Homo sapiens: one gene and its partners. The protein of the gene in region 3 interacts with the protein of the main gene of each other region in a biochemical or structural test. Each region holds a gene or a part of one and is shown on either strand. Other genes may lie near its edges.

Region 1 (3,500 bases), about 94 Mb from region 3:
AGAATAAAGGAATAACCAAGCCAGTTCTAAGCAGTTAGAAGTAGTGCTCAGAAAAAAACTTCTTGGAGGACATGCTATCAAAGTTGAGTTAAAGTTTGAACAAAAAATTTTAAAATACTTTATCCATTATACAAAAAAAATGTTTATTTTGCATCTCTTTATGAAGACACCAATGAAGGGACAAAAGTAGTAGGTGCAATAAAGAATAAGCCTAGAGAAAAGCTTCAATATATAGAATAGCGGTCAGCAAACTTTTTTTAAAGGACCAGATAGTAATATTTTTGGCTTGAGTGCCCAAGTTGCCTTTGTAGTAGTCACAGACAATAAGTAAAAGAATGAGCATGGCTGTGTTCTAATAAAACTTTGTTTACAAAAACTGAAGCCAGGCACAGTAGCATGTGCCTATGGTCCCAGGTATGCAGGAGGCTGAGGCAGGAGGATCCCTTGAGTCTACCAGTTCAAGACCAGCCTGGGCAACATAGCGAGACCCTGTCTTATTTAAAAAAAAAAAAAAAAAAAAAAAAAGGAAACAAAACAAAACACCAAAACTTTGTTCACAAAAACAGGCAGCCACCCTGTGGACTACAGCTTGCCAAGCTCTGATCTAGAAGAAAGAGATTACCAAAAACAGAAAAAAGAAAACCATGCCAAAGTGTTCAATGGCAAATAAACAAATTTGATTATTTCTAAGTACCTAGTATACAATACTAAAAAGAAAACAATAAGGATATGTGAAGGAAAAATAACCATTACCATTTTGCTCCTTCAATTTATAGCAAAGCTGACCCAAAAAAGTATAATCCTGTACATGTAATATTTCAGAAGAGCAGTAAAAGGAGGATTTTATAGAACAGATGGCAAGTGAATGCATGAATAACAGCACTTACCAATACAACTGCCTTTGGCCTCATGGCTTCCACTCACATTTACAAACATAAGTGGGGAGGATTTCATGATATGCTGGATGAAATCAAGCAACATCACGGAGGTTGGCTGAGAGTCAGTTTTCTTTACAAGTTCTACAGCAACTAAAACAATAAGATTCATTTTAAAGAGTCATGACAAATTAAACAATGGTCCTTTTGTTAAGAAACCAGACTGTGGGCCAGGCAAGGTGCCTCACTCCTGTAACCCCTGTACTTTGGGAGGCTGAAGTGGGCGGATCACCTGAGCCCAGGAACTCAAGACCAGCCTGGATAAGATGTCAAGATCCCGTCTCTACAAAAAAAATTTTTCTTAAAATTAGCTGGGAGTGGTAGTGTGCCTATAGTCCCAGCTACTCAGGGGGCTGAGGCTGGAGGATTCCCTTGAGCCCAGAAGTTCAAGGCAGTAGTGAGCTACGATCACACTATTGCACTCCAGCCTGGAACAAAGCAAGACTCTGTCTCTTAAAATTAAAAAAAAAAAAACAAAAAGTGGGGTGGGGGTGGGGAACCAGACTTTGGTGACCAGAATTATATCCAGCACAGCACTCAACAACATTCAAGCTAAATTGATGGGGCTAAACACTACAGTCTTTTTTTTTTTTGAGACACAGTCTCACTCTGTTGCCCAGGCTGGAGTGTAGTGGTGTGATCTTGGCTCACTGCAACCTGTGCCTCCGGGGTACAAGTGATTCTTCTGCCTCAGCCTCCTGAGTAGCTAGGACTACAGGTGTGTGCCACCACACCCAGCTAATTTTGGTATTTTTAGTAGAGACAGGGTTTCGTCATGTTGGCCAGGCTGGTCTCAAACTCCTGACCTCAGGTGATCCACCCACCTCGGCCTCCCAAAGTGTTGGGATTACAGGCGTGAGCCACCGTGCCCAGCCAACACTACAGTCTTATCTAATTTTAAATGTTTAAAAATCACATGCATTCCTCTACCATACATCTATTTATCAAACATGTACTTCAGGAATAATATGCCAGGCAATGCTAAAATCTAAGGATTAAAAAAAAGTTCTCACAATCCAGTGGGGCGCCAAACAAACCAACTAATAATTATAATACAATATGGTAACAGCACTAATCCAGAATAAGGAGAAACAGGTATCTGGGAGGACACTGTGAAGGAAATGATTCCTAGATGAGGAGTTGGTCAGAGAGGGGAAGGGCAAGTAGTCTAAACGGAGGGAATATGAATACGATACAAAAACACATCTTGTAAGTATTCAGTAGTCCTTTGTTATTTTTCAGCAACCCATCATTTTACTGATTGAAAAAGAAAGGATTAATGGCTAGTCTAAGTCATAAAATCTGCGCCAAATTTGGAATCCAAATTATAAACCCTGAGCCTAATGCCATTTTATATTATCCCTCCCATGTAATTTCAACAGATATGACAAATGTGACACCATCTTGCCAGGTTGGTAATATTCTGTCTAGCAGATTGGCACAAACAGGCAATAATTGATTCAGTAACTCACATAATCCTATAATCTCCTATAGGCACAGGCATGAACCTACTTAAAGAGTAACTTACTTAAAGAGGTTTTTTTGGGTGGCATTTGCTATTAGTCTACCACTGGCATAACAGCTAACCAAAATAGGGTCCACATGATTGGTACTGGACAAATATTTTTACATATAATATCCAATATTAAAGAACTCATAGCAAGCAGTAGAAAATCTAGATAACAAACAGGAAAAGAGAATTATTTTAAAAGCCTAATTCAAATTTTGTAACAAGCAATAAGCAATACTGATTAACAAATAACTTGCTTGAAAATAGTAACTATCATAAATACTCCATATCTAAAACTACATGGAGAAAATGCTACTATAATTTATACATGGAAAAGAAAAGTCTAATTTATAAAGTTTATATAAGAAATAATTGGTTTCTTACCAACATTTACATCTGTAAGTATCCGGTCAATGAATTGACACAGAATTTGTCTTGGCTTCTGTACAACTGTATTATATTCCTCTGGTGTGGCACTAAAATACAAATTAAAAGCTTTTAATCCTTAAAGTGACTCAGTTTCATTTGCAAAAAAAATTTCTCTAAAGTAGAACTCATCAAATGTGTTCAGTGTCAATGTTGATATTCACAGTATTCTTCTGTTTAAAAATTGAAAAGAAAATCTGAATATGTTACCAACTTACAAGAAAAAAAAGAATATGCTAAGTAATACTAAAGAGATCCAATCAGCAAAGCCTAGACCTGAACTTCTCAATATGGTGGCCACTAGCTACAAGTAACTAGGGAGAACTTGAAATGTGATTAGTACAAATTGAAATGTGCTATTGATGGCAGTGGCAGCCCAGTTGGAGCGGTGAGGAAGGTGGTGCTAGGGCTGCTCTCTCCAGGGCGCTAGTGGGCAGAAGCCCCGCCCCCTTCTGAGGTGCAAGACAGGTGGAAGCCCCGCCCCCTTCCGAGTTGCAGGGTCGGGAGCCCAGCCATCCTGGGTGCAGCTGCAGCCGCCCAACCACGGCTGCAAACCCAGGCATCCCTGCTCTTTCCAGGGCCGGGAAGGCCCCCTGCCCTCACAGACTTGGAAATGCCTGCTCCCGCTG
Region 2 (3,500 bases), on a different chromosome or scaffold from region 3:
TGGCGGGGCTTCTCATGCGTGCCCTCCCCCAACCCTTCCTGTTTCGCCCCCTGCAAAACAAAGATCTCACCTTGAACTGCCCAGGATAGAGTTCCTTGGCGAGGGCGAAGAAGGGTTCCGGATGTTTCTGTAGGAGAGACAGCCAGAGGGCCAGATGCCCCAGGTAGCGTGAGGGTTGGAGCCAGGTGACCCCATCCCCACCCCTCACAGACGCCCCTTCCTGGGGGAGCACAAACCTTGAAATAGCTGATCTCAAAGATGGCCTCTGGGTAGGGAAGATGGTACTTCTCTAGGTTGTCATAGAGGCCGGTGGATGGAGAGCGAAAGTCGGGGATGCCTGCGGCTAGGAAAGGGGGGTCAGGGAGCAGTTGGTCTATACCATACTAACCCTCCCAGGACAGGGCTCAGATAGGGCTCCTCCCCAGCCCTTGGGAGGGACTCCCCAGTTCCTGGGGGTAGCTGCTGGGGGAGAAGGGTTACTTACATGTGGAGATTCCAGCTCCCACCAAACAGATGACTCTGCGACCTGGAGGAGAGGAACTTATGCACCATATGACACCGTTTGCTCAGTCCCTACGATAGCACCACCCATCACAGCCCCTGACATCGTTTACTCCATGCCAGGCCCTGGGGCAAGCATCTCAGATGCATGACGGGCCTTCCAATCATCTAGACGGGGATGGTGTTAACATCCCCATTTTATAAATGAGAAAACTGGGGCTCAGATAGGGGAAGAAGTCACACAATCAACTGCGGAAGAGCCAGCCAGCGGATAAAGAATCCAGTGTTGGGCTGGGTGCAGTGGCTCATGCCTGTAATCCCAGAACTTTGGGAGGCTGAGGCAGGCGGGTCATCTGAGGTCAAGAGTTTGAGCCCAGCCTGGCCAACATGGCAAAACCTCATCTCTACTGAAAATACAAAATTAGCCAGGCGTGGTGGCACGTGCCTGTAATCTCAGCTACTTGGGAGGCTGAGGCAGGAGAATCACTTGAACCCGGGAGGCGGAGGTTGCAGTGAGCCGAGATCATGCCATTGCACTCTAGCCTGGGTGACAGAGCGAGACTCCATCTCAAAAAAAGGAAAAAAAAAAAAAAAAGAGAATCCACTGTTGGAAATCACACCAACTTGGACTTGAGAAAAGGCCACTTTAGGATAAGAACCCTGGGCTGAGCAGAAATAGCTAGCTGGTGGCTGGTGAGTAGCCACCAGGCCATAGTACCCTGGCATCTGCCCATCAGCTGATAGACAGGCACAAGTGTGATATGCTGTGGATCAGATGCCTCTGGGATGCCCTGTCCAAGGGAGGACAGCAAAGGTGAACAGAGCACAAAGCCTGCCACAGCTTCAGCCCTGAGCTTCAGCTCTGAGATGCCATCAGGCCAGGCCTGGTTGAATCCAGTGGTGGCTACATGTGGTCTGGATTCAGGGGACCTGGGGTCAAATCCTGGCTCTGCCACTTGGCAACTGTTTGACCCTACACTGAGTCGTGACCTTTTTGTGCCTCCTTTTCCTCCTCTGTTCAGATCACTTCCATAATGATCTTACAGGTATAATGTGAATATCAAATAATAGGGCACTTGTAAAGTGCTGAGCCCAGTGCCTGGCAAATAGTGAAGCCTCAATTAAGTGGTTAAAAAGAAATTTTTAGGGCCGGGCCCGGTGGCTCACTCCTGTAATCCCAGCACTTTGGGAGGCCGAGGGGGGCAGATCACCTGAGGTCAGGAGTTCAAGACCAGCCTGGCTAACATGGTGAAACCCCGTCTCTACTAAAAGTACAAAAATTAGCCGGGCGTGGTGGCACGCGCCTGTAATCCCAGCTACTCGGGAGGCTGAAGCAGGAGAATCGCTTGAACCCGGGAGGCAGAGGTTGCAGTGAGCCATGATAGCGCCACTGCACTCCAGCCTGGGTAACAGAGTGAGACTCTGTCTCAAAATAATAATAATAATAAATTTTTAGAGCAGTGAGGTGAGGGTTGGAGCCTCACCTTTAAATTTTTGCAGAGAGGGGGTCTCGCTTATTGCCCAGGCTAGTCTTGACCTACTGGCCTCAAGCGATCCTCCTGCTTTCAGCCTCCCAAAATGGTGGGATTATAGGCCTGAACCACCACTCCCGGCCTCAACTAATTGTTATTTTTCATTACTATCTCCTCCTGGGCACCCTCATGAGCCAATTACCCCAGAATCCAGGTGCAGGAGGACACAAGGAACAAATGCTTTGTAGCCACTGCCTGTGTTGTCTTTGGGGCCTGCCCAGGCTAAAAGATGGCTGCAGACAGCTGCTCGCCTGCCGCAGGAGAGGGAGGCTCAGGGCAGCAGGCCTGGCTGCCTGAGGAGGGAGACAGTGGCAGCTGGAGGACAGGGACACAGGAGAAGATGTCCTCAACAAAAGGCTGCTCAGGAACCACAAAGGGTCGATTGTTCTAGTTGAGGACTGCCAAGGGCCTGGTTTCTCAGACTTTGGTGACCTCAACTTGTGGCAAGAAATATAAATTTCAGGCCGGGACGGGTGGTTCATGCCTCTAATCCTAGCACTTTGGGAGGCCGAGGAGGGTGGATTGCCTGAGCTCAGGTGTTCAAGACCAGCCTGGGCAACATGGTGAAACCCTGTCTCTACTAAAATACAAAAAATTAGCCAGTCGTGGTGGTGTGCGTCTGTAATCCCAGCCACTCGGGAGGCTGAGGCAGGAGAATTGCTGGAACCCGGGAGGTGGAGGTTGCAGTGAGCTGAGATTGTGCCACTGCACTCCAGCCTGGGCAACAGAGCAAGACTCCATCTCAAAAAAAAAAAAAGAAAAAGAAATATAAATTTCATGCTGACTCAGTAAGTGGACACCTATCCACCACATCTGAAATAAGCCTCCTGTAGTAATAACCACGGCACACCCTGCCACAGCTCTCGCTATGTTCCAGGCCCTGCTCTAAGCATTTGCATTTTTATTTATCTTTTAAATTTTATTACTTTATTTTTTTTTAGAGTCAGAGTCTCACTGTGTTGCCCAGGCTGCAGTGCAGTGGTGCCATCATAGCTCACTGCAGCCTCCAATTCCTGGGCTCAAACAATCCTCCCTTCTCAGCCTCCTGAGTAACTGAGACTACAGGCAACGCCCCCATATCTGACTATTTTTTTTTTTCTTGTAGAGATGGCGGGGGGGTCTCACTATGTTGCCCAGGCTGGTCTTGAACGCCTGGCGTTGAGTGATCCTCCCACGATGGCCTCCCAAAGTGCTGAGATTACATACATGAGCCACTGCCCCTGGTCCTATATTAATTTATTTAGCCCCGCCAATAACCTTATGAGTTAGATACTATAATCATTATCCTCATTTTATGAAACAGGCCTGGTCAATCAGAGTGCAGTAATTCACTCAGCAATGGAGAAGCGACCCAGGTCTGGCCAATCAGAGGCATGGGGGCAGGCATTTGACTCAACCGGGACCAATGGGAGCCAATCTCTGCTGTTTGGTTTGAACTACTGGGAAAAGGTGCTCTCTCGGTGGCAG
Region 3 (3,500 bases):
TGTACTCCAGCCTGGGCAATGGAACAAGACTCTGTCTCAAAAAAAAATGTTTTGGTGGAATTGTAAATAGTGATAATAAAGAATAGTAAAGGAATTATGGCTAATATTATATTTTTGGATGATTAGAAAAATATAAAAATGAGTAAAAGAATTTTCAATAATTTGGATCAAAATCCCTGGAATTAGCCAGTAACAGTGGATCATGCCTGTAATCCCAGCATTTTGGGAGGCCAGAGTGGGTGGATCACTTGAGCTCAGCAGTTCCAGACCAGCCTGGGTAACTTAGTGAATCCCCATCTCTATAGAGAAATTAAAATTTTAAAATATTTTTAAAAAGAAAAACAAATGCCTGGAATTTTGCACTGCTCCTCTGACAAAGAATGGTAGACATATAATAGATAAAACCTTTGGTTAAAACACCTAGACATGAAAAGTTTAAAGTTTGTTAGAAATTTTGTAACCAGATATTTTGAATGGTTTTAGTAGAATCATTACTTTGCTTTCATAGTTAACTTTTTCCAGTCCTAGGAAAAACCCTTCTGTGGTTATAAAGCCAGAAGCATGTTCTCCACAATTTGGAAAAACATCTTTTCCTACAAAGGAGTCTTTTAGTGCTAACATGTCCCTTCCCCACCCCTGCCAGACGGAGTCAGGATACAAGCCTCTGGTGGGCAGAGAGGGTAAGTCCATTAGTCATCTATTGATGTATAACAAGCTACCCAAATATGTGGCTTAAAACAATTATTATTTATTTTCTCCCAATTTCTGTGATCAGCAATTCTGACAAGGCACAGAGGGGACAATCTCTGCAGGGACTGGAATCACTGAAAGCTTGTCTTAAGCTGGAGGATCTATTTCAAGGTGGCTCACTCACATGGCTGGCAGTGTAATTTCTTGCCACATGGGCCTCTGCACATGGATATGGGGTATCCTCTTAACCTGGTGGGTGGCTTCCTCTAAAGCTAGCAAATCCAGAGAGAGCGAGCCAGGCAGAAGCTATCCATTTATGGCCTAGCCTCAGAAGTCACACAGCATCCCCTCTGCCACATTGTATTTGTTAGAAGCAAATCACTGAGTCTGGGCGTCATTCAAGGGGAGAAACCAAGCTTATACCTTTTTTTTAATTTTTATTTTTTATTTTTATTTTATTATTATACTTTAAATTTTAGGGTACATGTGCACAACGTGCAGGTGTGTTACGTATGTATACATGTGCCATGTTGGTGTGTTGCACCCATTAACTCGTCATTTAGCATTAGGTATATCTCCTAATGCTATCCCTCCCCCCTCCTCCCAAGCTTATACCTTTTGAAGGGGAGTTGTGTCAAAGCATTTGTGGGCCTTTTTTTTTTTTTTTTTGAGGCGGAGTCTCACCCTGTCACCCAGGCTGGAGTGCAATGGCACGATCTCAGCTCACTGCAACTTCCGCCTCCCGGGTTCAAGTGATTCTCCTGCCTCAGACTCCCGAATAGCTGGGATTACAGGCACCTGCCATCATGCTTGTGGGCATATTTTTAAACCATCACAGCATCAATTGACCATGCCAAAAACCTAGCTAGTATGCAGGAATCTGTTTTTCTTTTCTTGTTTTTTTTTTTTTTCTTTGAGGCGGAGTCTCACTCTGTCACCAGGCTGGAGTGCAGTGGCGTGATCTCGGCTCACTGTAACCTCTGCCTCCCATGTTCAAGCGATTCTCCTGCCTCAGCCTCCCGAGTAGCTGGGACTACAGGCATGCGCCACCACACCCAGCTAATTTTTGTATTTTTAGTAGAGACAGGTTTCACCATGTTGGCCTGGATGGTCTCAATCTCATGACCTCGTGATCCACCCACTTCAGCCTCCCAAAATGCTGGGATTACAGGCATGAGCCACCGTGCCCAGCCTCTGTTTTCCTTTTGTAGTCCAGCTTTTGAGTTTTTATAACTCAGTCCAGATTGAGGGGATCTGCTGTTTTTTAGAGAGAGACAATCTAACATCAGTAGGTTTTCAGACTGCTATGTCAGTGTATCTTATAAATCGGATACATTGACCCTCTTCTTACCATCAACCTTTCAAATCCTTGGCCATCATAACACTTCTGAGAAACTGTAGCCCACTTACATTTTTGGCATCTAGCAGCTAAAGGGGCAGTGTACAGTAGTGTTACAAGCAGGCAGTAGAGCCCAGTAGCCTGGATGTGAGTCCCAGTAATGCTGTTAACTGGCTTATATGATTTGGGCAAGTCCTTTAGTCTCTGTGCCTCAGTTTCCCTATATGTAAAACAGACCTAATGATAAATCCTTGTAGGGTCACTGAGGAACAAATGGGCTGATGCGTATAGAGCTCTTAAAACACTGTCTAGCACGTAACAAGCACCATGTCAATGTTAGTGGTCACTGTTTTATCTAATTGCCTCATTTTGAGTGAGGCAAACAGCTTGATTTTCTTTTCCTTTCCTTGTATGAGTTCCTGTTTTACATAAGGAAGGTAAAAGATGCAGGGCTCTTGAGCCGCTTTGGCTCTTGTTTGTTCCAAGTTCGAAGAAGTAGAACAGCGTGTGTTTTAAACTCATTGCATGTAAAAGTTTCTAATATGCCCATGCTTCTGGGCTCAAGTTTTGATTTACATTTTATCACATTTCAGATAGTAAGCCCCACAGTCTGAGAGGTGACTCCATAAAACAAGAAGAGGCCCAGAAAAGCTTTGTTGACAGCTGGAGACAGAGATCAAACACTCAAGGTACCAGAATCCCTGCTTCTCCTGCAGGGGCCTGCATGGCTCTGAGTAATATGCAGAAGAATTGCCCAGGCCTCTGAGAACCGGTGCCCCGGGCAGTCCTTCAGAGAGTCCAGGGAAGTCAAAGTATGTGGCTTAAGCAGAAGACTTTATAAAGTGGAAAGGGCCAAGGGCAGGTATGTCCCAGAGCCTTCCGCACCCACAGGCATCTTCCTGGGGCTTAGTGGCAGCCTAGAGGACAGTTGGCATCCAAAGAATCCTTACTGTTTCCTTCTGAAAGCCACCGAAAAGATCTCCCATGTCAGAACCTTCTAGAGTCATCTTGTCTTCTGCAGGTTCCATTTTGATAAACCTGCTCCTGAAGCAGCCTTTGATCCCAGGGTCATCCCTAAGCCTTTGCCACCTCCTGAGTAGTAGTTCTGAGTCTCCTGCTGGCACCCCCCTGCAGCCACCAGGGTTTGGCAGGTAAGCATAAGACTCCTGGAAAGCTTGTTTGGGAAGGAGCTTCCTGGAAGCAAATTCCTTTCTGGCCCTGGCCAGCCTGAGAAGTCTGTGGGAAGGGCAGGCAGCCTGGAGAATTTGGCAGGCAGGCTGTTTGGGGCTCTTGACCTTATCTCCATCCCACACTTAATCTATTTTTCTTTGTGTTTGTTGCCAGTACCTTGGCTGGAATGTCAGGCCTCAGGACCACAGGTTCTTATGATGGGTCATTTTCCCTCTCAGCCCTGAGAGAAGCACAGAACCTGGCATTCACTGGACTGAATCTGGTTGCCCGGAATGAGTGC
Region 4 (3,500 bases), about 79 Mb from region 3:
CCTCCTCATCGCTGTCTGGGGAGGCAAGAGACACCTGCTACTGCGGTCATCCCCAGCACCTTCTACTCCCCTCCCAGACTCCTTCCCAGCTTCCCAGTCCCTCGGGCAGGCAGACAACTGGACCTACCATACAGGAGCCCACGGCGCATGCGGCCCAGGCCCCGGCCAGCCTCCCGGTCACGCTGCCGCATGGCCCGCTCTGCTGCCTCCCTCTGACTGGCCGTCAGCTCCTCTACGTCCTCATCATCCAGAGCCAGTCCCTCGGCCTCATAGGCGTCCAGCTCTGGGATGGCGCGGTAGTCCCTGAGGGAGCACCAAAACAGATGTGGTTACTGCCAAAAAGGAAAACCCTAAGCACCAAACCCCATCCAGGAACTGGGCCTGTTCCCTAAGGTTCAGGAGCCCCATTGTGGGTAGGCTCAGCGCTTCCAGGTCAGAAACACAGAAGGCTCAGAAAAGATCTCCAATGGATGAACAAAACACGATCTGTCCATATGATGGACGATGAAGCCTTAAAATAGAAGGAAATTCTGCCACGTGCTGGCACATGGATGAACCTTGAGGACATGATTCTGAGTGAAAGAAGCCAGGCACAAAAGGACAAATCCTATATGGTTCCACTCACTGAGCGGTCAAATTCACAGAAACAGAAAGTAAAATGATGGTTGCTAGGTGCTGGGAAGAATGGGGAGTTAGTGTTTAACCGAGACAGTTTCAGTTTTCAAACTGAAAAGACTTTTGTGGATGGATGGCGGTGATGGCCGCACAACAATATGAATGTACTTAATGCCACTGAACCATACACATAAGAATGGTTAAGATGGCTGGGCATGGTGGTTCATGCCTATAATTCCAGCACTTTGGGAGGTGAAGGCAGGAGGATCACTTGAGCCCAGGAGTTCAAGAACAGCCTTAACATAGTGAGACCCCATCTGTATAAAAATAGAAAATGGCCGGGCACGGTGGCTCATGCCTGTAATCCCAGCACTTTGGGAGGCCAAGGCGGATGAATCACGAAGTCAAGAGATTGAGACCATCCTGGCGAACATGGTAAAACTCCATCTCTACTAAAAATACAAAAATTAGCTGGGCGTAGTGTCATGTGCCTCTAGTCCCAGCTACTCGAGAGGCTGAGGCAGGAGAATCGCTTGAACCCGGGAGGCAGAGGTTGCAGTGAGCAGAGATTGTGCCACTGCACTCCAGCCTGGTCGCAACAGAGTGAGACTCCGTCTCAAAAAAAACAAAAAGAAAAAAAAAATAACCCAGGCCTGGTGGCACATGCCTATAGTCCTAGCTACTCAGGAGGCTGAGCTGGGAGGATTGCTTGAGCGCAGGAGTTCAAGGCTGCAGTGAGCCACGTTCGTGCCACTGCATTCCAGCCTGGGTGACAGAGTAAGACCCTGTCTCAAAAAACTAGCAAACAAAACAAAACAAACAAACAAACAAAAGGGCTGGGTGCGGTGGCTCATGCCTGTAATCCTAGCACTTTGAACCAGGGAGGCAGAGGTTGCAGTGAGCCGAGATAGCACCACTGCACTCCAGCCTGGGCAACAAGAGTGAAACTCCGTCTCAAACAAACAAACAAACAAAAAAGGTTAAGATGGTAAATTTTGGGCCAGGGCAGTAGCTCATGCTTGTAATCCCAGCACTTTGGGAGGCTGAGGCGGGCGGATCACGAGGTCAGGAGATCGAGACCATCCTGGCTAACACGGTGAAACCCCGTCTCTACTAAAAATACAAAAATTACTTGGGCGCGGTGGTGGGCGCCTGTAGTCCCAGCTACTTGGGAAGCTGAGGCAGGAGAATCACTTTCGGAGGTTGCAGTGAGCCGAGATCACACCACTGCACTCCAGCCTGGCAACAGAGTGAGACTCTGTCTCAAAAAAAAAACAAAAGAAAAGGTAAATTTTGTTATGTGTATTTTACCACAATTACAAAAGGGGAGGTAGATCTCCAGACAGCTTCTATGCGCCCAATAAGAAAAAATAATTCAAGGAACCACAAAACATTAGACCAAAAGGCTTCAGAGAGCTGACCCAACTCCCCGTGAGGGCTGGAATTCTCCCTGTACTTTCCCCATCTCTGACTATGCCGCCTTCAACAACCTGATGTCCTGGCTTCCATGCACAGTCAGCCAAACCAGCCCTCTGAAATGGCCACCCACTGTCTCAACCCTTTGAGCTACTCTAAGACCATCAGACACACATTTTCCACATTATCTTCCTTCAGATACTGAAGAGAAGTAATGCCTTAATAAGGCACCCAGCGAGTGCAAAGCACTGTGCTCTCTTCCCTGCAGTGCTCTCTTCCCTGAGGAGGAGACACTGTCATTCCATCTGAAAGATGAGGAAATGGGTAGTTGAGGGGAAAATGTGATTTTTGCCTATGGTCGCTCTGTAGACCTGAGTGTCAAAATATAGTCCAAGCCCAGAGCTCCTTCCCCCATGCCATACTGCCTCCCCAAGACAATCCCCTTGAATTCTCCTTTTTTCAGGTTAAATGGTGACAAGAGAAACTGCTACTATTTTTCTGCAATAAACATTGTCAAACTACTGTCAGAACAAATCTTTTTATGCTGTTGATGCCCCAAGCAGAACCCAGCCAGGCAGATATCAGAGTTGACCAGGTCTGATTTCTTCCATGTTTTCGGGGAAAAGGTATCGGTCCCATTCTCCCTGGATCTCAAGTCACACAAAATGCCCTCAGCAAACTTCTAATTGGTTCATACAAAAAAAAAAAAAAAAAAAAGTTAAACTGGACTTCATCAAATTTCAAAACTTTTGCACTTCAAAAGAAAACATTAAAACCACGAAAAAGATAAGCCAGATTGAGGAGAAAATAACTGCAAATTACATATCTGATAGAGGACTTATATTCAGAATATGTAAAAAACCTCTTACAACTCAATAGTAAAAAGACAAGCAACCCAATTAAAAAGTGAGTCCAGGATTTCTCTGAAGATACACAGATAGCCAATCAAGCATACGAAAAGATGTTCAACATCATTAGCCATCAGGAATGAGATGCCACTTCACACCTGCAGGGATGGCCAGAATCAAAAAGACCAATGTTGGCAAGAACACGGAGGAGTGGAACCCTCATGTGTTGCTGGTGGGAATGCAAGATAGTGCAGCTGCTTTTGAAAACAGTCTGGCAGTTCCTCAAAAGATTAAACACAAGACCAACAATCTCACTCCTACATAGCCAACAGAATTAAAGATCTGGTCACATAAAAACCTGTAACGGGCCGGGTGTGGTGGCTCACACCTGTAATCCCAGCACTTTGGGAGGCTGAAGCACGTGGATCACCTGAGGTCAGGGGTTCAAGACCAGCCTGGCCAACATGGTAAAACCGAAACCGCATCTCTACTAAAAATAGAAAAATTAGCCGGTGTGGTGGCAAATGTCTGTGATCCCAGCTACTTGGGAGGCTGAGGCAGGAGAATTGCTTGAACCTGGGAGGCGGAGGTTGCAGTGAGCTGAGATTGTGCCACTACACT

Evidence for each region.
Region 1: the proteins of ATRIP (region 3) and ATR form a complex in vitro, tested with the Homo sapiens proteins (4 studies listed by BioGRID and IntAct, with this or other methods).
Region 2: of the proteins of ATRIP (region 3) and SIRT2, one has a biochemical effect on the other in vitro, tested with the Homo sapiens proteins (one study listed by BioGRID).
Region 4: the proteins of ATRIP (region 3) and MCM2 form a complex in vitro, tested with the Homo sapiens proteins (one study listed by BioGRID).

The regions. Positions count from the first base shown.
Region 1 is NC_000003.12:142,565,234-142,568,733, forward strand, and holds part of ATR (serine/threonine-protein kinase ATR), read right to left. Parts: intron 2,922-3,500; coding exon 2,830-2,921; intron 1,029-2,829; coding exon 888-1,028; intron 1-887. UniProt on the Homo sapiens protein: Serine/threonine protein kinase which activates checkpoint signaling upon genotoxic stresses such as ionizing radiation (IR), ultraviolet light (UV), or DNA replication stalling, thereby acting as a DNA damage sensor.
Region 2 is NC_000019.10:38,889,619-38,893,118, forward strand, and holds part of SIRT2 (NAD-dependent protein deacetylase sirtuin-2), read right to left. Parts: intron 527-3,500; coding exon 485-526; intron 344-484; coding exon 237-343; intron 128-236; coding exon 71-127; intron 1-70. UniProt on the Homo sapiens protein: NAD-dependent protein deacetylase, which deacetylates internal lysines on histone and alpha-tubulin as well as many other proteins such as key transcription factors.
Region 3 is NC_000003.12:48,456,737-48,460,236, forward strand, and holds part of ATRIP (ATR-interacting protein), read left to right. Parts: intron 1-522; coding exon 523-680; intron 681-2,622; coding exon 2,623-2,718; intron 2,719-3,050; coding exon 3,051-3,180; intron 3,181-3,373; coding exon 3,374-3,500. UniProt on the Homo sapiens protein: Required for checkpoint signaling after DNA damage. Required for ATR expression, possibly by stabilizing the protein.
Region 4 is NC_000003.12:127,601,411-127,604,910, reverse strand, and holds part of MCM2 (DNA replication licensing factor MCM2), read right to left. Parts: intron 304-3,500; coding exon 128-303; intron 35-127; exon of another isoform or gene 16-34; coding exon 1-15. UniProt on the Homo sapiens protein: Acts as a component of the MCM2-7 complex (MCM complex) which is the replicative helicase essential for 'once per cell cycle' DNA replication initiation and elongation in eukaryotic cells.